Linked DNA regions of Homo sapiens. The protein of the gene in region 1 purifies or fractionates together with the protein of each later gene. This does not show direct contact. Each region holds a gene or a part of one and is shown in the gene's direction. Other genes may lie near its edges.

Region 1 (3,500 bases):
CATTGTCTCACCAGTGCCTGGCATACAGCTAACACTTCAGAAGTATTTGTTGAGTGAATGAAACATACCACATTTGTCAGGACATATATGCAGCAGAAGCATAGAATACAATTGAGATAAATGAACGCATAGCAATGGCTATAATTGGATAATTATTATTATTATTATTTTGGTCTGATTTACTTTTTATTTTATTTATTTTTTTATACTTTATGTTTTAGGGTACATGTGCACAAAGCGCAGGTTTGTTACATATGTATACATGTGCCGTGTTGGTGTGCTGCACCCAGTAACTCGTCATTTAACATTAGGTATATCTCCTAATGCTATCCCTCCCCCCTACCCCCACCCCACAACAGGCCCTCGTGTGTGATGTTCCCCTTCCTGTGTCCATGTGTTCTCCTTGTTCAATTCCCACCTATGAGTGAGAACGTGCGGTGTTTGGTTTTTTTGTCCTGGTGATAGTTTGCTGAGAATGATGGTTTCCAGCTTCATCCATGTCCCTACAAAGGACATTAACTCATCATTTTTTATGGCTGCATTGTATTCCATGGTGTATATGTGCCACATTTTCTTAACCCAGTCTATCATTGTTGGACATTTGGGTTGGTTCCAAGTCTTTGCTATTGTGAATAGTGCCGCAAGAAACATATGTGTGCGTGTGTCTTTACAGAAGCATGATTTATAGTCCTTTGGGTATATACCCAGTAATGGGATGGCTGGGTCAAATGGTATTTCTAGTTCTAGATCCCTGAGGAATCGCCACACTGACTTCCACAATGGTTGAACTAGTTTACAGTCCCACCAACAGTGTAAAAGTGTTCCTATTTCTCCACATCCTCTCTATCACCTGTTGTTTCCTGACTTTTTAATGATCGCCTTTCTAACTGGTGTGAGATGGTATCTCATTGTGGTTTTGATTTGCATTTCTCTGATGGCCAGTGATGATGAGCATTTTTTCACGTGTCTTTTGGCTGCATAAATGTCTTCTTTTGAGAAGTGTCTGTTCATATCCTTCACCCACTTTATGATGGGGTTGTTTGTTTTTTTCTTGCAAATTTGTCTGAGTTCATTGTAGATTCTGGATATTAGCCCTTTGTCAGATGAGTAGATTGCAAAAATTTTCTCCCATTCTGTAGGTTGCCTGTTCACTCTGATGGTGGTTTCTTTTGCTGTGCAGAAGCTCTTTAGTTTAATTAGATCCCATTTGTCAATTTTGGCTTTTGTTGCCATTGCTTTTGGTGTTTTAGACATGAAGTCCTCGCACATGCCTATGTCCTGAATGGTATTGCCTAGGTTTACTTCTAGGGTTTTTATGGTTTTAGGTCTAAAGTTTAAGTCTTTAATCCATCTTGAATTAATTTTTGTGTAAGGTGTAAGGAAGGGATCCAGTTTCAGCTTTCTACTTATGGCTAGCCAGTTTTCCCAGCACCCTTTATTAAACAGGGAATCCTTTCCCCATTTCTTGTTTTTGTCAGGTTTGTCAAAGATCAGATAGTTGTGGATATGTGGCATTATTTCTGAGGGCTCTGTTCTGTTCCATTCATCTATATCTCTGTTTTGGTACCAGTACCATGCTGTTTTGGTTACTGTAGCCTTGTAGTATAGTTTGAAGTCAGGTAGCATGATGCCTCCAGCTTTGTTCTTTTGTTTTAGGATTGACTTAGCAATGCGGGCTCTTTTTTGGTTCCACATGAACTTTAAAGTAGTTTTTTCCAATTCTGTGAAGAAAGTCATTGGTAGCTTGATGGGGATGGCATTGAATCTATAAATGACCTTGGGCAGTATGGCCATTTTCATGATATTGATTCTTCCTACCCATGAGCATGGAATGTTCTTCCATTTGTTTGTATCCTCTTTTATTTCATTGAGCAGTGGTTTGTAGTTCTCTTTGAAGAGGTCCAATAATTGGATAATTATTAATGTATTTAACAACTACCTGCATGACACTCTGTGTCTATTGAGTACTATTTAATCTTCACAACAAACCCATGTGGTAGGTACACTACATTATCCATTCATTAATACACTAAATTATCCAGTAATCGATAATACACTAATATTATCCATTCATTCATTTTACAGATGAGGAATCGGAAACAAAAATAAAAAGCTTGCATAGCTTTGAAGAGTGGGGCTGGGATTAGGAGAAGATCTGCTAACTGTTTAGCCCATCTGCCTGCCTACTATTTGCCTGCACTTACAAGGCTGAATTTGGCTGAAGAAAAATACGCAGACACATTGGTCCTACTTTAAATTCACAGTCAATAACCTCAGGGGGCCCCTTGGTACATTTCTTTTTTAAAATCCATTTTCACTTAACTGGATCATATTTCTTACCTTACTTCCCTTCAAACCTCTTATGTCTCCTCTCCCATTTCTACTCTCAGCTATATCCTTACTTCTATTTGTCTGAGAAAGTAGAAATAATAAGAAATAAATGTTCACATACTCCACAACTGCTTTTATAAGTCTATCTGCAGATCTATCCATTTACTCCTCTTTTTATTTTTTTACTGAACTTGGGGATAAACTCCTAGTGCTGTAATCTAAGTTCAAGACCTCATCAAATTTAGCATTAGACCATCTCTCCTACTCAGGGAAATCAATCCAATAATTTTCTTCTCTTCTGCATCATCCTACTGTGTTATCCCACATCCTCCTGTATTATCCTTAACAGTATTTAAATATGCTCTAATATTTAGAACATCTTAAATAATTACCCCATGTTAAAAAAGAATCCCCTCTTGGTTATGCATTTCTCTCTAGCTATTGAATTAATTGTCTGTTACTGGCAAAACTCTTTGAAAGAGAAATTGCAACTATCCTTCTCCCATTCTCTCTTGGACCCTTTCTAAACAGGTGTTTGTCCCCAGTAACAAACTGTTCTTGTCACGGTCACCCATGACCTGCAAGTGATCAAACTCAAGATTCTGTTTTCAGTTCTTATCCTACCCGTATAGTATTTGGCATTCAAATTTTCATAATAAATTTGTATTTTTTACTACAAAGTGGTAAAGTTAGCATCGAAATACTTTAAACCTACCATTTACCCAACCAGTACCCTTTATGCGATCATCTTTTTATAGTGACGATATATTTGGGTTTCTAATTGAGAGTATTAATACGTTAACTATTCCATGTGATTTGATGTTCAGCCAAACACTAATAGTACTCAGTTGGTATTCGGGTACCATTAGAAGGCAATGCTTGGTGTTTCCTTACTTGGGAAGAATATTCCTTTCATCACATGTATTTGTGTTTGGACAGAGTGGCTTGTCTCTATAAAACAGAAGAAGATGAATGGTCTTTCTGAGAATTAGTCTTTGTATTTAAATATAATAGATTTGTGATTAAGCAACGGCTGCTTTTCAGACTCCTTAATTACTATCATAGCAAATAATCATTGGCAAACTAAAATATTAGTTTGCTTAATGATAAATATCACTCAAGTTTAAGCATTATGTAGAAAGAAATAGTCATAAACTTTGGAAGGGCCG
Region 2 (3,500 bases), on another chromosome or scaffold:
AAGGAGGCAGAGTTAGGAGAGCGATAAGAACCATCACAGAGAAGCTGAGAGAAGACACTGGCCATGGCGTGGCATCAGGGAGCACTGATTTCTGGGCCAGTGTTTCATGCCCTTCGATGGGCACATAAATCATCTGGGCTTCTTAAGATGCAATGGGCTGGGGTGGAGCTGAGATTCTGCATTTCTGATAAGCACCTAGGAGATCCCAAGGCTGCTGGTCCTCAAACCACACTTTGAATAGCAAGGAGCTAAAAGACCTGAGTTCTGGCCCAAGCTGGGTGGGCAAGATACTAAGCAGATCCCCTCTGGCCTGAGAACCCAAGATGTAGAAGATGGGCCTAGGACAGCTCTATTGTGTAGGTACACACTGAAGATTAAGGAATGAGGGGGCTGAGAAGGAACCCTGCAAAGGACCCATTTTTCTGGGTCACAGATGCAGACATGGAGACTCAAACAGACAGGAGCAGGCAGAGTCCTAGCATGCCCAGTGGACGCAATCCTGGAAGGGCCGCCTCTCCTTGGCTCCTTGCCATATAGAGACCCCCCCCCCACCGCCAACCCCTGCACAGTGATGCTGGCTGGAAGACAGAGGTGCCACCAGTAGCCACAGTCTCTGTTGTTTCCCACAGGCACTGTGCTCTCGGACATCATCCAGAAGTACTTCTTCTCCCCGACGCTCTTCCGAGTCATCCGCCTGGCCCGAATAGGCCGCATCCTCAGACTGATCCGAGGGGCCAAGGGGATCCGCACGCTGCTCTTTGCCCTCATGATGTCCCTGCCTGCCCTCTTCAACATCGGGCTGCTGCTCTTCCTCGTCATGTTCATCTACTCCATCTTTGGCATGGCCAACTTCGCTTATGTCAAGTGGGAGGCTGGCATCGACGACATGTTCAACTTCCAGACCTTCGCCAACAGCATGCTGTGCCTCTTCCAGATCACCACGTCGGCCGGCTGGGATGGCCTCCTCAGCCCCATCCTCAACACTGGGCCGCCCTACTGCGACCCCACTCTGCCCAACAGCAATGGCTCTCGGGGGGACTGCGGGAGCCCAGCCGTGGGCATCCTCTTCTTCACCACCTACATCATCATCTCCTTCCTCATCGTGGTCAACATGTACATTGCCATCATCCTGGAGAACTTCAGCGTGGCCACGGAGGAGAGCACCGAGCCCCTGAGTGAGGACGACTTCGATATGTTCTATGAGATCTGGGAGAAATTTGACCCAGAGGCCACTCAGTTTATTGAGTATTCGGTCCTGTCTGACTTTGCCGATGCCCTGTCTGAGCCACTCCGTATCGCCAAGCCCAACCAGATAAGCCTCATCAACATGGACCTGCCCATGGTGAGTGGGGACCGCATCCATTGCATGGACATTCTCTTTGCCTTCACCAAAAGGGTCCTGGGGGAGTCTGGGGAGATGGACGCCCTGAAGATCCAGATGGAGGAGAAGTTCATGGCAGCCAACCCATCCAAGATCTCCTACGAGCCCATCACCACCACACTCCGGCGCAAGCACGAAGAGGTGTCGGCCATGGTTATCCAGAGAGCCTTCCGCAGGCACCTGCTGCAACGCTCTTTGAAGCATGCCTCCTTCCTCTTCCGTCAGCAGGCGGGCAGCGGCCTCTCCGAAGAGGATGCCCCTGAGCGAGAGGGCCTCATCGCCTACGTGATGAGTGAGAACTTCTCCCGACCCCTTGGCCCACCCTCCAGCTCCTCCATCTCCTCCACTTCCTTCCCACCCTCCTATGACAGTGTCACTAGAGCCACCAGCGATAACCTCCAGGTGCGGGGGTCTGACTACAGCCACAGTGAAGATCTCGCCGACTTCCCCCCTTCTCCGGACAGGGACCGTGAGTCCATCGTGTGAGCCTCGGCCTGGCTGGCCAGGACACACTGAAAAGCAGCCTTTTTCACCATGGCAAACCTAAATGCAGTCAGTCACAAACCAGCCTGGGGCCTTCCTGGCTTTGGGAGTAAGAAATGGGCCTCAGCCCCGCGGATCAACCAGGCAGAGTTCTGTGGCGCCGCGTGGACAGCCGGAGCAGTTGGCCTGTGCTTGGAGGCCTCAGATAGACCTGTGACCTGGTCTGGTCAGGCAATGCCCTGCGGCTCTGGAAAGCAACTTCATCCCAGCTGCTGAGGCGAAATATAAAACTGAGACTGTATATGTTGTGAATGGGCTTTCATAAATTTATTATATTTGATATTTTTTTACTTGAGCAAAGAACTAAGGATTTTTCCATGGACATGGGCAGCAATTCACGCTGTCTCTTCTTAACCCTGAACAAGAGTGTCTATGGAGCAGCCGGAAGTCTGTTCTCAAAGCAGAAGTGGAATCCAGTGTGGCTCCCACAGGTCTTCACTGCCCAGGGGTCGAATGGGGTCCCCCTCCCACTTGACCTGAGATGCTGGGAGGGCTGAACCCCCACTCACACAAGCACACACACACAGTCCTCACACACGGAGGCCAGACACAGGCCGTGGGACCCAGGCTCCCAGCCTAAGGGAGACAGGCCTTTCCCTGCCGGCCCCCCAAGGATGGGGTTCTTGTCCACGGGGCTCACTCTGGCCCCCTATTGTCTCCAAGGTCCCATTTTCCCCCTGTGTTTTCACGCAGGTCATATTGTCAGTCCTACAAAAATAAAAGGCTTCCAGAGGAGAGTGGCCTGGGTCCCAGGGCTGGCCCTAGGCACTGATAGTTGCCTTTTCTTCCCCTCCTGTAAGAGTATTAACAAAACCAAAGGACACAAGGGTGCAAGCCCCATTCACGGCCTGGCATGCAGCTTGTCCTTGCTCCTGGAACCTGGCAGGCCCTGCCCAGCCAGCCATCGGAAGAGAGGGCTGAGCCATGGGGGTTTGGGGCTAAGAAGTTCACCAGCCCTGAGCCATGGCGGCCCCTCAGCCTGCCTGAAGAGAGGAAACTGGCGATCTCCCAGGGCTCTCTGGACCATACGCGGAGGAGTTTTCTGTGTGGTCTCCAGCTCCTCTCCAGACACAGAGACATGGGAGTGGGGAGCGGAGCTTGGCCCTGCGCCCTGTGCAGGGAAAGGGATGGTCAGGCCCAGTTCTCGTGCCCTTAGAGGGGAATGAACCATGGCACCTTTGAGAGAGGGGGCACTGTGGTCAGGCCCAGCCTCTCTGGCTCAGCCCGGGATCCTGATGGCACCCACACAGAGGACCTCTTTGGGGCAAGATCCAGGTGGTCCCATAGGTCTTGTGAAAAGGCTTTTTCAGGGAAAAATATTTTACTAGTCCAATCACCCCCAGGACCTCTTCAGCTGCTGACAATCCTATTTAGCATATGCAAATCTTTTAACATAGAGAACTGTCACCCTGAGGTAACAGGGTCAACTGGCGAAGCCTGAGCAGGCAGGGGCTTGGCTGCCCCATTCCAGCTCTCCCATGGAGCCCCTCCACCGGGCGCATGCCTCCCAGGCCACCTCAGTCTCACCTGCCGGCTCTGGGCTGGCTGCTCCTAACCTACCTCGCCGAGCTGTCGG
Region 3 (3,500 bases), on another chromosome or scaffold:
ACCTAAAACTTCAAATTTTATAGTTCAGACCTATGAAAGAGATAGCTAAGTTTTGGAAACTCTTGCAAACTAATTTTTTTATATTAGTGCGTGTTTAATGTAAATTAAAAACAAAATTGCCACCTATCTCATAGAAGAAGCTGAAATTACCAACGGGAATGCTGTAGCACAAGCTCCAGTAACAAAAGGTTGCTACTTAGCCACTGGAAGCAAAGATCAAACCATTCGAATCTGGAGCTGTTCTAGAGGCCGAGGTAAGATTGATCTTTCTTTTGTGATGTAACCTATGTTGATCTGGTGGAAGTAGAGGGTTTTCTGTTCTTATTGTCCTGAGGGTGTGTCATCTATTTGAGAGCAGTTCTTCACTTTTTGGTCTAGAATTCTGCTTCCTCATTTGAGCCTGGCCTAGACTCTCTATTCTCTCAACATCTGGCCTTAGAGATTAGTATTTCCCATGCATTCCAGGAGAAGACAAGGATCTCTTGCTTTATAGAAGGGTCAGTGTTTGGCATGGAGAGCAGAATATTTGTAATAAAAACAGGAATATTAGAACATGATATGGCCTAAGCCAGGAGAATGGAAAATATCTTAAGAGTTAGAGCTTTTAATGCACAAATGCAGAATAAATTACATACACCCAGCATAGAATTATGTGTAAAAGCTCATTTTATCCAAATTATAGAGCCCCTCAATCATTTAGCTTTCCCAAATGTCTCTTTGAACAGAACTTTTATCTTTAAGTTTAAAAATTGAGAGAAACTCTAGGCATAATGAATATTTATAGTATATCATAGAATATAACCTTTATAGTAAAAATCTTGTTTTTCTCTTTCTAGCGGGCTTCTCTTCTTTCTTCATTTTATTTTATTTTTTTTGGCAGTTTTTTAAGCTGTGGTGGAAAATATAACATTTGCCATCTTTATCACTTTTAAGTGTACATTTAAGTGGTATGAAGTACACTCTAAAGTTGTGCAACTGTCACAGCCACCCATCTCCAGAATTCTACTCTCCATTTCCCCCTCCCCCAGGCCCTGGCAACCATCATTCTGCTTTCAGCTCTATGATTTTGACTACTCTGAGTATTTCCTTTGAGTGAAGTTATACATATGATATGTCTTTTTGTGATTGGCTTATTTCACTTAGCATATATCCCCGAGGTTCATTGATGTTGGTACCGTATGTCAGCATATCCTTCCTTTCTAAGGCTGAATAATATTCCATTGTGTGTATGTCCCACATTTTACTTACCCACTCATCCACTTGTTATAAATAAAATTTCGGTGTGGCAAAAGAAATAGCACTCAAATATAAAACTTTCTTTTTAATTCTCAGCAAGGCAATGTACTTCTATAGAAGGGTGCGCCCTTACAGATGGAGCAATGGTGAGCGCACACTTGGACAACGGAGGGGAGGGGTTCTTATCCCTGACGCATGTGGCCCCTGCTGCTGTGTCGTTCCCCTATCAGCTAGGGTTAGACCGCACAGGCTAAACTAATTCTGATTCGCTGATTTAAAGAGAGTGCCGGGGTAAGTGGTTTGATGGGAGAAAATGGTTATGGCAGGAAAAATGGTTATGGCAGAGCAGGAAATCAGAATGAGTCAGGGTGGAGCAGGTAATCGGAATGAGTCAGGATGGAGCAGGTAATCGAAAAAGGTTGCTTTTACGAGGAAGTTAAGTTTAAAAACAGAAGCCAAATAATTGAACATACTGACATATTGATTCTTTGAAGAGAAATTTAGAACTCATATCTCACACACTGATGGACATTTGGGTTGCTTCCATGTTTTACTATTCTAAATAATATGCTATGAGCATGGATGTACTTTCTACTTTATTTGAAACCATGATAGTTTTATCATATTTGCCCAAATGCATGTAAAGCAAGTAGCACAGCACTTGGAATGTCATCCAGGCTTCATCAGTGGTAGGTAACTAATAGTATAATTTGGGAAGACAGAACTTTTTTAAGGTTTACAGGCTACTTCTTGGCATACTGCAGCTAAAACTCCAAGTGGGAACATAAGGCTGAGGATCCCTCCAGGAGGGTAACCTCTAGACTTAGAGGTGTCTGGTAAAATGGCCTTCAATTGTGGTTGTGCAGCAGAATCAGCTGGAGAGTCTTTGGAAAAATGTAGGTTCTTGTACCCCACCTCAGATCTACTGAGTCCGAATCTCTAGGAGTTAGGCCCTGGCGTATGTATTTTTTAAAGTTCCACCTGTGGTTCCGATGCACAATACAGCTTAAAAAACGGTGATTAGAAGCATGTCGGGTGGAGGTACTCCCCACCCACAGCACGTTCACTGCCAAATTTTTCTTTGTTGGATTTCTTGCCGACTAGAAATAGTAATCCCAACCTCTGTCCTTTTCACTTTGGAGTTATGTCACTGCAATACTTTTGGGTACACAACTCAGCTGTGTTACTAGCTGGGTTCTCAGTTTTACTTGGGAACTCATTTTCCCAGACGAAAAAATACTCTTTTTCTTTTGAGGCAGAGTCTCTCTCTGTCGCCCAGGCTGGAGTGCAGTGGCACGATCTCAGCTCACTGCAAGCTCCACCTCCTGGGTTCATGCCATTCTCCTGCCTCAGCCTCCCGAGTAGCTGGGACTACAGGTGCCTGCCACCACGCCCGGCTAATTTTTTTGTATTTTTAGTAGAGACAGGGTTTCACCATGTTAGCCAGGATGGTCTCGATCTCCTGACCTCGTGATCCTCCCGCCTCGGCCTCTCAAAGTGCTGGGATTACAGGCATGAGCCACCGCGCCCGGCCAAAAAAAAAAAATACTCTTAATACGTTGAGGTTGTCAAGATAGCCTGTCGAAGCTTGTTTGACCTAAATGTAGCTAGACTAGTATTAACCAGTATTTATAGTGATTAAAATTATAACCATAATAATGGTTAAAATTGTAACCATTGGAAAATGAGATCTGAATTCTAAGTAGCCAAACTAACAAGCTTTTACAGCGCAGACTGTGTGTTATGAACCACCGGTGACTTCATGCATGTAGTTTCACTGTCTTGAGTGCCCACTGGCCTTCTTTTTAATCTGCAGGGGTGATGATTTTGAAATTGCCCTTTCTGAAGAGAAGAGGAGGGGGTATAGACCCAACTGTTAAAGAGCGCCTTTGGTTGACACTCCATTGGCCCAGCAATCAACCAACACAGCTGGTATCTAGCTGTTTTGGGTAAGTCTTTTTTGGTCATGCTTTCTCAGATATATTTTGTTTTTCTATTTGGCCTCAAGTCCTCCTAGGATGGAGAAAGTAATGGCCAAGGCTTGTATTATGATGGGCCATTTGAAATGGAAAAATTATGAGACTAATGCCTGTGCTATCTACTAACAGAGCTGTAAAAAGATCACATAAGTATAGTCCGGCAGTTAGGAATATGGACTCTGAAGTCAGAACTAAATTTCAGAATCACTTTGTCACTTACTGCCTTGTATTCCTGAGCAAGACCCTTTACTTTTCTGAGCTTCAGTCACTTCAAGTGTAGAAAGG
Region 4 (3,500 bases), on another chromosome or scaffold:
AAGAGACCATGGCCCTTTTCATTTCCTATTCTCTTTCCCCTGATCCCAACCATTGTTTGCAAAGATGGACTGGTGATCCCATTGGTGGAGCTGTCAGCAAAGCAGGTGGCATTTCATATCCCATTTGAAGTGGTGGAGAAAGTTTACCCACCAGTGCCTGAGCAGCTACAGCTCCGAATTGCTTTTTGGAGCTTCCCTGAGAATGAAGAGGACATTCGGTGAGGCCAAAGGACTGATGGTGGGGAGCGGGGTCCTGATACTCCACACTGTCTGCTGGGTTTCCCATAGAACAAAGGAGACATTGTATTTGGGGCAGTGGTAAGAGGAAGACAAGGGAGGGATTGCCTGGGATTCCACTCCCTCCCCCCCACCCCCCGCCCTGGGGAAGGAATGAGGCTAGGGAGAGAGTGCCTAGGGCATTGTGGTCTCTGACAGGGTCTGCCAAAGGTTATTTGCTGAGTTGTGGCTGTGTCCTCTTCTTCACCCCCAGGCTGTATTCGTGCCTGGCCAATGGCAGTGCGGATGAGTTTCAGCGAGGGGATCAGCTCTTCCGCATGCGGGCTGTGAAGGACCCATTGCAGATAGGTGAGTGGGCCATCATGCCATGTGGCACATCCTGCTCCTCCCATCCCCTGGCTTATGAAGTAAGAACACACCGCAAGAAGCTGGAGCATGTTGTCTGAATAACTGCAGGGCCAGGGTCAAGGGCAGAGACCCAGGTCCTGACAGCACTCCCTGACCATGCCCCCATTTCTCCCCAGGGTTCCACCTGAGTGCTACAGTGGTGCCACCTCAGATGGTCCCTCCTAAAGGGGCCTACAACGTGGCTGTGATGTTTGACCGCTGCCGGGTCACTTCCTGCAGCTGTACCTGTGGGGCTGGGGCCAAATGGTGCACCCACGTCGTGGCACTCTGTCTCTTCCGCATCCACAACGTGAGGCCCTCCCAATTTATCCCGGCCCTATCCTACACTCCATCCCCCCCTTCTCTGCTGCATGCCTGGCTACAATGTGAGCCCCCTCGCCTCGCCTACTCTGCCTCTCTGTCCCCCAGCTCCAGCTCCAGCAAACCTGTTCTCAGATTGTTCCATTTTTCTCTGTGTCCCCTTCAGGCTTCTGCAGTCTGCCTGCGAGCCCCAGTCTCAGAGTCCCTGTCCCGGCTACAGAGGGACCAGCTGCAAAAGTTTGCTCAGTACCTCATCAGTGAGCTCCCTCAGCAGGTGGGTGAGGTCGGCACCCCCTCCTGCAATTAGCTCCGGGCCAGGCCGCATAACAGCCTTCCTGTTAGGCCCAGGCCTCCATGGGTTCACCTAGGCCGTGTTCTGCCTGCCTCCGTCTCTTTCTCCCTCAGATCCTCCCCACAGCTCAGCGTCTCCTGGACGAACTCCTGTCTTCCCAGTCAACAGCCATCAATACAGTGTGTGGAGCTCCGGGTGAGTGTGGTGAGAAAGATTGGCAGTAGGAAGAAAGCCAGCTTGTAGTACAGAGCGCCATTTACTCAAGGCTTGCTGTTGTCAGGCAAATCCAGGCCCCTATCTCTAGATGACTGACTGCCTGTCATCCTCAGACCCCACAGCAGGGCCCTCAGCATCGGACCAGAGTACTTGGTATCTGGATGAATCGACACTCACTGACAACATCAAAAAGACACTGCACAAGTTCTGTGGCCCCTCCCCTGTGGTCTTCAGGTAAATCGGATCTCTGCATACCTGTGTCTGTGGTGGAGGGGGAGCGTCCCTCAGGCTGATGACAGATCCTTTCTTCTATTCATGCCTGTGACCCCTACCTTTTATTCCCTGAACTGGCACAGTGCCTGGCACACAGTTGTCACTAACGAATTGATGGAAGATGATGACCTTGTACAGTCACAGAGTGGTCTGCTCTTACCTAGCAAGAGTTCCTTTTCTTCTTTTGATAGATCAGGAAATGGAAACAGAGAAAGATTTTTTAAAGAGTTTTTGTGGCTGGGGGCGGTGGCTCATACCTATAATCCCAGCATTTTGGGAGGCTGACGTGGGCAGATCACCTGAGATCAGGAGTTCGAGACCAGCCTGGCCAACATGGCGAATCTCCATCTCTACTAAAAAAACAAAAATTAGCCAGGCGTGGTGGCGGGCGCCTGTAATCTCAGCTACTTGGGAGGCTGAGGCAGGAGAATTGCTTGAACCCGGGAGGTGGAGGTTGCAGTGAGGTGAGATCGCGCCATTGCACTCAAGCCTGGGCGACAGAGCAAGACTTGGTCTCAAAAAAAAAAATTTTGTTACAGATGTCTTTTTCCCTCTATCTTCTGTATTTTGGGGCCGGAAGCCCTTTTAGGTTTCATTCAGCCCCGTCTTACTGTCATGGTTTTCTGTTCCTCTGCTTTTACAGTGATGTGAACTCCATGTATCTGTCTTCCACGGAGCCGCCAGCCGCTGCTGAATGGGCATGTCTGCTGCGCCCTCTGAGGGGCCGTGAGCCAGAGGGCGTCTGGAACCTGCTAAGCATTGTGCGGGAGATGTTCAAGCGGAGGGACAGCAATGCTGCCCCCTTGTTGGAAATCCTCACTGACCAGTGCCTCACCTATGAACAGGTAATCACTCAGCGTTGGGGAGCCCCGTGGTAGCTCATTCTTTCCCTCCCCCTGCCTCATCCTCCTCTTGCTGAAATGGACTCTGGGAGGGCTACTCTGCCTTTCTCTGAGCTCTCAGGTGCAGCTCACAGCCTTCTTTGTCTCCAGATAACAGGTTGGTGGTATAGCGTACGTACCTCAGCCTCACACAGCAGTGCCAGTGGGCACACGGGCCGTAGCAACGGGCAGTCAGAGGTGGCAGCCCATGCCTGTGCCAGCATGTGTGACGAGATGGTCACACTGTGGAGGCTGGCCGTGCTGGACCCTGCACTCAGCCCCCAGCGGTGAGTCTCCCCTGAGGCTCACCACAGAACTGAGCCTGGGCCAGCTCAGGACAGACTGAGCCTTCATCTCCTTGTTTGCAGAGACATACCATGATTTTAGTCCTCGGGAAACGGGAGGTGCTGAGCACTGGTGTTAGCAGTGATTTACGAGTCCTTTTTCTGAGAGGCTTTCATCCTTCCTTCCCCTAAATAACACCCACTTTTCAAAATTCTCCAGTGTTTCAGTGATGCTTATGGGGCTGGGTCAAGAAGTACTTTCCTGTATCCTTTCCCCATGCCTCTCTTTGGGGTGTACACCTACTCCATGCCCATCCTTTCCCAGTAGCCCCTCAGCAGCCTCCTGCCCCTTGTTCCCACAGGCGCCGGGAACTGTGTACGCAGCTGCGGCAGTGGCAACTGAAGGTGATTGAGAACGTCAAGCGGGGCCAACACAAGAAGACGCTGGAGCGGCTCTTCCCCGGCTTCCGGCCAGCGGTGGAGGCCTGCTACTTCAACTGGGAAGAGGCCTACCCACTTCCTGGTGTCACCTACAGCGGCACTGACAGGAAGCTGGCACTGTGCTGGGCCCGGGCCCTGCCCTCTCGGCCAGGTGCCTCCCGCTCTGGG
Region 5 (3,500 bases), on another chromosome or scaffold:
TCCATTTGGCACATTTGCTTTCCAATTATTCTCAAGATCAGACATAATTAGAAAGACATCAATATATTTAAATATGGGCAATAATGATTCACAATGAGCTAACTATTTTAGGTTTATATTTTTCCTCAACATATGCTTCCCCATAAATTTATCAGAGCGTTATTTGAACAAAATATAGAGATTTAATAAATATTTGAAAAGTAACAAGGTTCTTTACATACTTTTTAAAAAAATACTTTTTGTTCCCAAAGTACCTCTACTTCATATTAGTTTTTATGCATAATCTACTAATTAGAATGTATTAACTCATTTTTACAGAAAATCAATGGTTTTATTTCTTTGCAGTGAGCCCCATGCACGGTTCTATGCAGCTCAGATAGTGCTAACATTCGAGTACCTCCATTCACTAGACCTCATCTACAGAGATCTAAAACCTGAAAATCTCTTAATTGACCATCAAGGCTATATCCAGGTATGACTTTAACACATTATGTGTACTGTATATGAGAAAATACTAGGCAAGACATTGTATGTATGTAACCCCAACTTGGAATTTTTTTTGAAGAAGACACTTTCTCCTAATAGTTTAAGTAGAGCTCAGAGTTTTGCTGCTATTACAGAGAAGCAAAAATCCTGTTATGAAAGGAACTTGTTTATATCTCCATTAATCTATAGTTGTGAACTGAGTATAGCCTCTTGCATAAGGAGATATTAATAGCTAAATCTATGAGCAGTTATTAGTGCCAGGCATATTCCACTTGTTTTACATGTATTATTTCTTTAATCCTGATAAACCTATGAAGTGGAAATACCATTGTTATCTTCATTTTAAGATTAACAAAACTAAGACATAGCAAGGTCATTTAGCCAATAAATGGTAGAGTCAGAATTTGAACCTAGGCAGTCTGATCCCAGAGTCCATGCCCTTTACGACTACAATATAACTGCCAAAGAATCCCTGACTACCAATACTGAACTCGTAGCAACGTTTTCTTTCCACTTCTACTACTAATAAAGTGGGAGCATTTCTTTTTACACAATTATTGATAGATTCTCCCATTGACGTTTTTACACTTCTGATGGTGCAACTAATGGCAGAGGACACATTGGGGTAAGGCAGACATTTAGCATTGTTTCATTTTTATTAATGCTATTTATTTTTACCTTTTATTTTCACTTTTTTATTCCTTGGGTCTAGGATCTTATAATAATGACTGAAAAGAGTTTTGTTGTTATTAATTTGTTCCTTTTCTTTGAGTTGAGGAAGGATTTCCAACTTGGATTGTTTAAACTTTCATTCACTAGATATTCATGAATGAATTTCAATTACGTGGACTTAATTTTTTTTCCATTTCTTTCATAGTTTCAATTTGAATTTTAAACTTTCAACGTAGGTGCAATAAATACATTTATTGTGAGGTAATACATTTTCACTAGTATTCTTTTTTTCTTTTATAGGTCACAGACTTTGGGTTTGCCAAAAGAGTTAAAGGCAGAACTTGGACATTATGTGGAACTCCAGAGTATTTGGCTCCAGAAATAATTCTCAGCAAGGTATATTCATAATATCAACACATAAGAAGTAGAAATATGAGACATGCATCCCTATGGACTTTTGTAAAAACAGTTTATTGATCTAATTTTACATTTTTAATTTGATCTAAGTTATGAATTTAAATCTATTTGTGCATGATTACTAAAGAATTATTATTTAGCATCTACCACTAATCCTGTAACCTCTGTCAATTTTAACTCTGGGTCTTAGAGATATAATATGAATAAATATGACCTCTAGATCCATGTTTTGCAACCAAAAACATAGTCTTTTCTTAATTATTCCTAGTAACGGAAGGGTAGAGAAGACTTGCTCTGGATTATACCAAGAGGTAAATCTAGAGATGATATGTACTAGTTGTCCATTCTTTCTTTGTTTCAAATTTACCAGTTAAATAAAAGGAATGTATGAGAAGTGTTTTTAAATTTTAAATAGGACTATTAACAGCAATTGAATAGTTTTAGTCTTATTGAAGGCAGCTCTGCTTTTCTAAATAGTGAAACGTGGTGAGAGAAACTGTACCTATATCCAAAAGAATGGTTAACTTTTCCTCTGCCATCACTTGGTGGAGAAATCTAGAAAGGAGAACCTAACAATAACCAGGCACAAATAGGAGAGAGGAAAAGGAAGGGGATAAGACACATGCTTCACTGGTTCCCAAATGGAATCATTGAAATATGGCTAACTTATAGAAGTGTTAAAATAAAAGATTTCTTTCAACTTTTCTCTCATTATCTTTCATAATTTAAATAATATGTAACTTCTTGATATTTTATAATCTAAATATCATTGTAGTTAACACATTTCTTTAAATACAGTTAACAAATAATGGGACAACAAAATGAGCACTAAAACTTTTACAAATGTGTATATATTGTAAAAGTAATACTCATTATACAAAATTTAGAAAATACAGAAAAACATAAACAAACAACCAAAAAAAAACCTATATGTAATCCCACCAACCTAGACGCAGCCTTTTTAAAAACATTCATATATGTATGTACATATATGTATATATGTGTATATGTGTATATATATACACCACATATATGTGTATATATGTGTATATATATACACATATGTGTGGTGTGTGTGTATATATGTATATGTGTATATATACATATATATTCATATATATGTGTATACGCATATATGTATATATGTATATGTGTATATATACATATATGCGTATATATACACATATATACGCATATGTATGCATATATATATGCGTATATATGCATATATGTATATATATGCGTATATATGCATATATGTATATATATGCATATATATATATATATACACACACATTTTAGCTTTATTTTAGCTTTCATTTTAGGTTCAGGGATACATGTGAAGGTTGGTTACAGACGTAAACTCATGTCATGGGGGTTTGTTATACAGATTATTTCATCACTCAGGAATTAAGCCCAGTACCCATAGTTATCTTTTCTTATCCTCTCCCTCCTCCCTACCTCCACCCTCAAGTAGAATCCAGTATCTGTTTTTTCCTTCTTTGTCTTCATAAATTCTCATCATTTAGCTCCCACTTACAAGTGAAAACATGTGGTATTTGGTTTTCTGTTCTGCATTAGTTTGCTGAGGATGATAGCCTCCAGCTCCATCCATGTTCATGCAAAAGACATGATCTCATTCCTTTTTATAGCTGCATAGTATTCCGTAGTGTATATGTACCACATTTTCTTTGTCTAGTCTACAATTGGTGGACATGTAGGTTGATTCCATGTCTTTGCTTTTGTGAATAGTGCCACAATGAATAAACAAATGCATGTGTCTTTATGATGAAATGATTTATAATCCTCTGGGTGTATACCCAGTAGTGGGATTGCTGGGTCGAATGGTAGTTCTGCTTTTAGCTCTTTGAGGAATCTCCATACTGCTTTCCACAATGGTTGAACTAATTTACACTCCTACCAAC
Region 6 (3,500 bases), on another chromosome or scaffold:
CTTCCTAAAGATACTTTTATTTTTTTGTTCGTAAATAGTCTTAAAATAATCTGCATTATAAACAGACTTCCCTATTATACATTTTATTTTAATCTTTCGAACCTCTGAAACCTAAGAAAAAAATAGCATTTCCTTGGTTTGTATAGACCTGTATTATCCAGCACAGAAGCTGTAAGCCATGTGTGACTACTGAGCACTTGAAATGGGGCTGGTTCAAACCGTGATGTGCTGTCAGTGGACAATTCTCATTGGATTTCAAAGACTATATATAAAAAAAAGTAAAGTATTAAACATTTTAAAGTATTGATTACATGTTGAAATGATAATATCAGGAGTTTAGTTAAATATATTACTGGAGTGCATTTCACCTATTTCTTATGTTTTTAATGTGCCTACTAGAACACTTAAAATTACATATGAAGCTCAAAATATATTTCTGTTGGTCAACTCTGACATAGACTGAGAAAGAGAATCAAGTTCAGGCCCTTTGAAAACATGGCCTTTTACCACTTCATGTGTGACCTTGAGCATTGCCTCTGAAACAACAGTCCCCAGTAGCCAATGTGACTTTAAATTCTGCCCTTTGCAATCTGTTCTGCTCTGAAATCTTCAGTGGCCCCCAGTTTCCTAGCAAATCAAAAATACTTTCTCATTTTCAAGCCCCCTGAAACCAGCCTCCCTGGCTTTTTCTACGCTGCATTTCTGGTGATCACAGCTCTAGTTAGTTTTCCATTCTGTGAGCATAACATGTGTGTCTTGGTGTCCTCACACAGGCTCTCAGGCCTCACAGGTAGTACTCACTAAACTTGTGGAATAAATCTGGAATTTCAAGGCTCAGTTGTGGCCCACTTTAATTGTTGTAGGCCTCACCGACATCCTCTTTCTGAATACTTGAATGTGATCATTCCTACCCTTTCTGAGGGCCTGCTTCAATGCCAGGCAGTATGCTAGCAGTTACGTAAGAAGCTGCTGTTCCAACTCATTTTGCATATTAATTCCTTTACTCCTCACAACCCTGAGAGGTAAATATTACTAGCTCTATTTTGTAGGTGAGGAAACTGAGCTATGGAGAGGTTAAGTAACATGCCTAAGGTCACACAGCTAGTAAAGCAGGCAGAGCCAGGATTTGACCTCAGAGAATGTGGCTTCAGAGCTCATACTCTTGACTGATTGCTACCGAGCTTTTTAACCGCATATATTTTCAACGCTCACAATAACTTTGGGAGGTAAGTCATAGGATCACCATTTTGCAGTTGAGGAAATAGTCTGAAGCAGTAAATAATGAGCTTAAAGTCGCAAGCAATAGTGACTTAGCTGAGATTCAAATTCAGATAATGCTTACTGAAGAGACTGCATTCTTTCTTCTACTATTTGTCCTTTTTGACTTCTTAATTAAAATGCAAACTTTGAAGATAAAAACTGTCATCTTACATATTTTCTCAGTAATCTTACAGTGCGTATCACAGTGCTGAGCAAAATGGTGCTTGATGCATGGGACTAATCTTAAGCATATTTTACTGTATTATAAATTATTGTAAAGTTAATGATTCTTGGATGATGTGAATGTTGACACTACTAAAATGAAATATTCCATTCTTCTGGTTGGTAATGTTGTTTTACTGTATCTAAAAAATCTGCATACTCGTGTTTTGAAGTCTTTACTCTGTTTTTCAGGTACTATGAAGCATTTCCACCACTTTCTGAGAAACCAGTTTGCCTGCAAGAAATCATGACTGTGTGGAACAAGTCTAAAGTCTGTTCTTACTCTAGCTCTTCTTCATCATCCACAGCCCCACCAGCTAGCACAGATACTTCCTCTCCTAAGGACTGCAACAGTGAAAGTGAAGTCACCAAGGAAAGAAGCAGTGAAGTACCCACCACTGTGCATGAGAAAACCCAGAGCAAAAGCAAAAACGAGAAGGAAAACAAATTTAGTAATGGCACAATTGAAGAAAAGCCTGCTTTGTACAAAAAGCAAATCCGACATAAACCTGAAGGAAAGATTCGCCCTCGCTCGTGGTCTTCTGGCTCCAGTGAAGCAGGCTCAAGTTCCAGTGGGAATCAGGGAGAATTAAAAGCATCCATGAAGTATGTTAAAGTAAGACACAAGGCACGAGAGATTCGAAACAAAAAAGGGCGGAATGGGCAAAGCAGGCTTTCTTTGAAGCACGGTGAAAAGGCTGAAAGGAACATTCATACTGGAAGTAGTAGCAGTAGCAGCAGTGGTTCTGTCAAACAGCTGTGCAAGCGGGGTAAGAGACCTTTAAAAGAAATAGGGAGAAAAGATCCTGGGAGCACTGAAGGAAAAGACCTGTACATGGAGAATAGAAAGGACACAGAGTATAAAGAGGAGCCCTTGTGGTACACCGAGCCAATTGCTGAATATTTTGTTCCTCTGAGCAGAAAAAGTAAACTAGAGACCACATACCGAAACAGACAGGATACAAGTGATCTGACATCAGAGGCAGTGGAAGAATTGTCTGAATCAGTGCATGGTCTTTGTATCAGCAACAATAATCTTCATAAAACATACCTCGCAGCAGGTACTTTCATTGATGGTCATTTTGTAGAAATGCCTGCAGTTATAAATGAGGATATTGACCTCACTGGGACCTCATTATGTTCTCTACCAGAGGACAATAAATACCTGGATGATATTCATCTATCAGAATTAACGCACTTCTATGAAGTGGATATTGATCAATCCATGTTGGATCCTGGTGCCTCAGAAACAATGCAAGGAGAAAGTCGGATTTTGAATATGATTCGACAGAAAAGCAAAGAGAACACAGATTTTGAGGCAGAATGTTGCATAGTGTTAGATGGTATGGAGTTGCAAGGGGAACGTGCAATATGGACAGATTCTACCAGCTCCGTAGGTGCTGAGGGCTTATTCCTGCAGGACCTTGGCAATCTGGCTCAGTTTTGGGAGTGCTGTTCATCCAGCTCCGGTGATGCTGATGGGGAGAGTTTTGGAGGAGACTCTCCAGTTAGACTCTCTCCCATCTTAGACAGCACAGTGCTCAATTCACACCTGCTTGCTGGCAATCAAGAGCTCTTTTCAGATATTAATGAAGGATCTGGTATAAACTCTTGTTTTTCAGTGTTTGAAGTGCAATGCAGTAATTCTGTTTTACCATTTTCTTTTGAAACACTCAACTTGGGAAATGAAAATACAGATTCTAGTGCTAATATGCTTGGGAAAACACAGTCTAGATTGCTAATATGGACCAAAAATAGTGCCTTTGAAGAAAATGAACACTGTTCTAATCTTTCAACAAGAACTTGTAGTCCATGGTCCCATTCAGAAGAAACACGTTCAGACAATGAAACATTAAATATTCAGTTTGAAGAATCCACACAGTTTAATGCCGAAGATATTAATTATGTAGTTCCTAGAGTCTCGTCAAATTATGTAGATGAAGAACTTCTAGATTTTTTGCAAGATGAAACTTGCCAGCAAAACAGTAGAACTTTAGGTGAGATTCCTACATTAGTTT
Region 7 (3,500 bases), on another chromosome or scaffold:
AAGTACATTTTGCCCATACCAAAGTTCTTATTTTTAATTTTATTGATACATAATAATCATAATTTCATGCTTTATCACGCAGGCACAATAATAATTGTACATATTTATGGAGTATATGTGATATTTTGATACATGCATACAATGTATAATAATCAGTAATTAGGATAGCCATCACCTCATTTATCATTTCTTTCTTTTGGGAACATTCAAATCTTCTAGCTGTTTTGAAATATACAATAAATTATTGTTAACTGTAGTCACTCTACTGTGCTATTGAATGCTAGAACTCATTCCTTCTAACTGTATTTCATACCAGAATTCTTTATTTGTGGTATATCTCTCTTTTTGTTTCTGTTTTGCTATTCTAGAAAGGCAGGTAGGGCTAGATCATATTCTCCAGGCTCATGTCATTTAGATTTCATAGAAACTCCAACTATAAACCTTTCCAGATTTCTCTGATTAAGGTGACTAAGGCTCTTTCCCTAATATTTTTAACTGAGATATAAATAATAAAGTGAAATGCCTACTTTTTTACATCTGCAAAAATATTTTATTTTCTTGTATAATCTTTATTTTATTATACACTTTATCTTGGTTTTACTTTTGCTTTGCAGAGGCATGAGATTCTAGTTTTGACACTAATGTTGATCCTAATATTTGTGAACTTGATCTCTAGCTTTCAGGATGCCAACCCGCCCCTGAAGGTTATTCCCCAACACTTCAATGGCAACAGCAACAAGTGGCACAGTTTTCAACTGTTCGACAGGTAAGTGTCATATTTAATCTAATTAAGCCCCTGTTGGATTTATTTCTGTTCTTAGACTGTAGCTGGAAAAATAAAATTTATGATCCTAAAGTATACAGAATATTCATGAATTAATTACCAAATTATTTTTATAATCATTAGACATGATACAGTTTGAAATATTTTCTAAGTTTTGTTTATTTTTATTTGTTTGTTTATTTATTTCAATAGTTTTGGGGAACAGGTGGTTTTTGGTTACATGGATAAGTTCTTTAGTGGTGATTTCTGAGATTTTGGTGCACTTGTCACCCAAGTAGTGTACTCTGTACCCAATACATGGTCTTTTACATCTCACCCCCTCCCACCTTTCCCATTTTTCAAGTTTTAGATGGTTACAATTTTGTGCAGAAACTGATTTCAGTTATCCATTTTTTGAAGAGTACCATCTAATGTCTAAGTTTTCTTCCTTTAGAATGTGAACAAACATAGAAGTCACTGGAAATCACAACAGTTGGATAGTAATGTGACAATGGTATGTAAGTTTCTCAGTTTTAAGATGTACAATGTATACCTGATTGAAAGAGTCTATATTTACTTCCAGTCGTTAAAGATTCACTTGCCTAGTCAGTGTTACTTTCATTCTCTTCAATATACCATTAATAGTAACAATTCATTACATTAGTAGCCTGGAAAGTATAGATTTTCATGACAAATTTTTTTTTTTTTTTTTTTTGAGACAGGGTCTTGCTCTGTCTCCCAGGCTAGAGTGCAGTCATGGCTCACTGCAGCCTTGACCTCCTGGGCTCAAGTGATCCTCCCACCACCGCCTTCCAAGTAGCTCGAACTTAAGGCATATACCACCATGCCCAGCTAATTGTTAAAATTTTTTGTAGAGACAAGGTCTCCCTGTGTTACCCAGGCTGGTCTCTTACTCCTGGGCTCAAGTGATCCTCCTGCCCTAGCCTCCCCGAGTGCTGGATTACAGGCATGAGCTACTGTACCCAGCCTTTCATGTCAATTTTAATTCACAATATCTTGGGGGACTTTGGATAGGTGACTGTGAAACTTCCACAAGTTTTTAAGGATTCTTCTAGACATTTACTTTCTAGGAAATAAATACATTTTCAATATTTACAAAAAAAATTGAATAAAGCCTTAATGGATTTTCCTGATGAGGTGATGGTGCCATGCAGTAAACTCACATGTTTACAGAACTTGTGAATGGATTCTGCTTCTGCTTAATGTGATGAGTCTGTGTCACAATTCCAGTGACATATAAGTGAAACCTGTCATGTATATTGTCATGCATATGTCCTATATTTTATCAGTTTAGATATAACTTTAAGCCCTTTAGTAGATATATCAGGACTACCAAATGAAAAAAGGAGTTGGAAAGATGATACATTGTCTCAGGACAGTAGTTTTTAACCTTTTAGGGGACTTCATATTCTTTCGTAGAATCTAATGAAAGCTATTTATCTTCAGAGGGAAAAAAAATGCACCTATGCACAACATTTTAGTTTCAGGTAGTTCATAGATTTTAGATTTTAGAAGCTTCCTTTAGGCAGTGCTTCCTGATATCTTTTACATGGTGACACATTAGAATAAATGACTGCTTGCATATTCTTCCTGAAACCAGCCGAAAGCTGAGAGATTCAGTATATGGCATCTCTGTATGCTTCTGCATACCATTTGGAAGCTCTGCTCCAGGAAAAGCGTGAAGGGAAGTAACTTATCACTTGCCAATGGTCATTTAACTTGTAAAAGGTATAGCTAGTCCTTCTATCAAAGAAGCATGCGCACATAAACACACAAAAGGTATGCTTAAGGTTCAAACCCAAGTTGGTCTGTCTCTAAAGCCTGTGTGCCTTTGACTATGCAATGGTGCCTTCCTAGTACCAAGGATGTATGTATGTAGTAGGGACAGGGCTAGGTAGGTAAATATATTTTTTTTCTTACTTAGCGGAAGGCCTTTTGGGTGCATGCCCACTAACTAAAAAAGAAGCCACATCAGTAACATTATGACTTGATAAAATTTTGTCAAAAATGGAAATGACCTAACATAATTGATTCAATAAACTATGGTCCATCAGAACAGTGGAATATTATGTAGCAATTTTAAGTGTTTGTCATGGCAAATGCAAACATCATATAAGTAATAAAATGAAAATGTTTTAAAGTACACTCTGAGCCAGGCACAGTGGCTCATGCCTATAATCCCAGCACTTTGGGAGGCTGAGGTGGGCAGATCACCTGAGCTCAGGAGTTCGAGACCAGCCTGGGCAACATGGCAAAACCCTGTCTCTATTTAAATTATTTAAAAAATAAAGTACACTGTGATGGCAACTGTGTGAAAACATAAACATTTGTTTATTAATTGATCCAATAATTTAAGCATGTGCTATATTTAATAATCAGGATATTCAGTACTAACTGAAACAGAAACAGCTTCTGACCTAATAGAGTGTTAGGAAAAGGTAGATAACCTTATTCCAAGACAATAGGGTTTAACTTTGTAGTGGTCTCATGTTCATCGTGAGGTTTTATTTTATTTTATTTTATTTTATTTATTTTTTTGAGATGGAGTTTTGCTCTTGTTGCCCAGTCTGGAGTGCAGTGGCACAATCTTGGCTCACTGCAACCTCTGTCTCTTGGATTCAAGCAATTCTCCTGCCTCAGCCTCCCAAGTAGCTGGGATTACAGGTGCCTGCCACCACACCCAGCTAATTTTTGTATTTTTAGTAGAGACGGGGTT

What was found.
Region 2: the proteins of FGF14 (region 1) and SCN5A purify together in Homo sapiens (affinity purification with mass spectrometry; one large-scale study listed by BioGRID and IntAct). This does not show direct contact.
Region 3: the proteins of FGF14 (region 1) and GEMIN5 purify together in Homo sapiens (affinity purification with mass spectrometry; one large-scale study listed by BioGRID and IntAct). This does not show direct contact.
Region 4: the proteins of FGF14 (region 1) and ZSWIM8 purify together in Homo sapiens (affinity purification with mass spectrometry; one large-scale study listed by BioGRID and IntAct). This does not show direct contact.
Region 5: the proteins of FGF14 (region 1) and PRKACB purify together in Homo sapiens (affinity purification with mass spectrometry; one large-scale study listed by BioGRID and IntAct). This does not show direct contact.
Region 6: the proteins of FGF14 (region 1) and KIAA0232 purify together in Homo sapiens (affinity purification with mass spectrometry; one large-scale study listed by BioGRID and IntAct). This does not show direct contact.
Region 7: the proteins of FGF14 (region 1) and GEMIN2 purify together in Homo sapiens (affinity purification with mass spectrometry; one large-scale study listed by BioGRID and IntAct). This does not show direct contact.

The regions. Positions count from the first base shown.
Region 1 is NC_000013.11:101,906,946-101,910,445, reverse strand, and holds part of FGF14 (fibroblast growth factor 14), read left to right. Parts: intron 1-3,500. UniProt on the Homo sapiens protein: Probably involved in nervous system development and function.
Region 2 is NC_000003.12:38,548,688-38,552,187, reverse strand, and holds part of SCN5A (sodium channel protein type 5 subunit alpha), read left to right. Parts: intron 1-629; coding exon 630-1,867; 3' UTR 1,868-3,500. UniProt on the Homo sapiens protein: Pore-forming subunit of Nav1.5, a voltage-gated sodium (Nav) channel that directly mediates the depolarizing phase of action potentials in excitable membranes.
Region 3 is NC_000005.10:154,928,212-154,931,711, reverse strand, and holds part of GEMIN5 (gem-associated protein 5), read left to right. Parts: intron 1-134; coding exon 135-254; intron 255-3,052; coding exon 3,053-3,185; intron 3,186-3,500. UniProt on the Homo sapiens protein: The SMN complex catalyzes the assembly of small nuclear ribonucleoproteins (snRNPs), the building blocks of the spliceosome, and thereby plays an important role in the splicing of cellular pre-mRNAs.
Region 4 is NC_000010.11:73,788,606-73,792,105, forward strand, and holds part of ZSWIM8 (zinc finger SWIM domain-containing protein 8), read left to right. Parts: intron 1-64; coding exon 65-218; intron 219-490; coding exon 491-585; intron 586-761; coding exon 762-934; intron 935-1,111; coding exon 1,112-1,219; intron 1,220-1,350; coding exon 1,351-1,432; intron 1,433-1,566; coding exon 1,567-1,687; intron 1,688-2,369; coding exon 2,370-2,571; intron 2,572-2,718; coding exon 2,719-2,894; intron 2,895-3,253; coding exon 3,254-3,500. UniProt on the Homo sapiens protein: Substrate recognition component of a SCF-like E3 ubiquitin-protein ligase complex that promotes target-directed microRNA degradation (TDMD), a process that mediates degradation of microRNAs (miRNAs).
Region 5 is NC_000001.11:84,196,271-84,199,770, forward strand, and holds part of PRKACB (cAMP-dependent protein kinase catalytic subunit beta), read left to right. Parts: intron 1-345; coding exon 346-472; intron 473-1,458; coding exon 1,459-1,554; intron 1,555-3,500. UniProt on the Homo sapiens protein: Mediates cAMP-dependent signaling triggered by receptor binding to GPCRs.
Region 6 is NC_000004.12:6,859,227-6,862,726, forward strand, and holds part of KIAA0232 (uncharacterized protein KIAA0232), read left to right. Parts: intron 1-1,674; coding exon 1,675-3,500.
Region 7 is NC_000014.9:39,117,323-39,120,822, forward strand, and holds part of GEMIN2 (gem-associated protein 2), read left to right. Parts: intron 1-676; coding exon 677-766; intron 767-1,217; coding exon 1,218-1,277; intron 1,278-3,500. UniProt on the Homo sapiens protein: The SMN complex catalyzes the assembly of small nuclear ribonucleoproteins (snRNPs), the building blocks of the spliceosome, and thereby plays an important role in the splicing of cellular pre-mRNAs.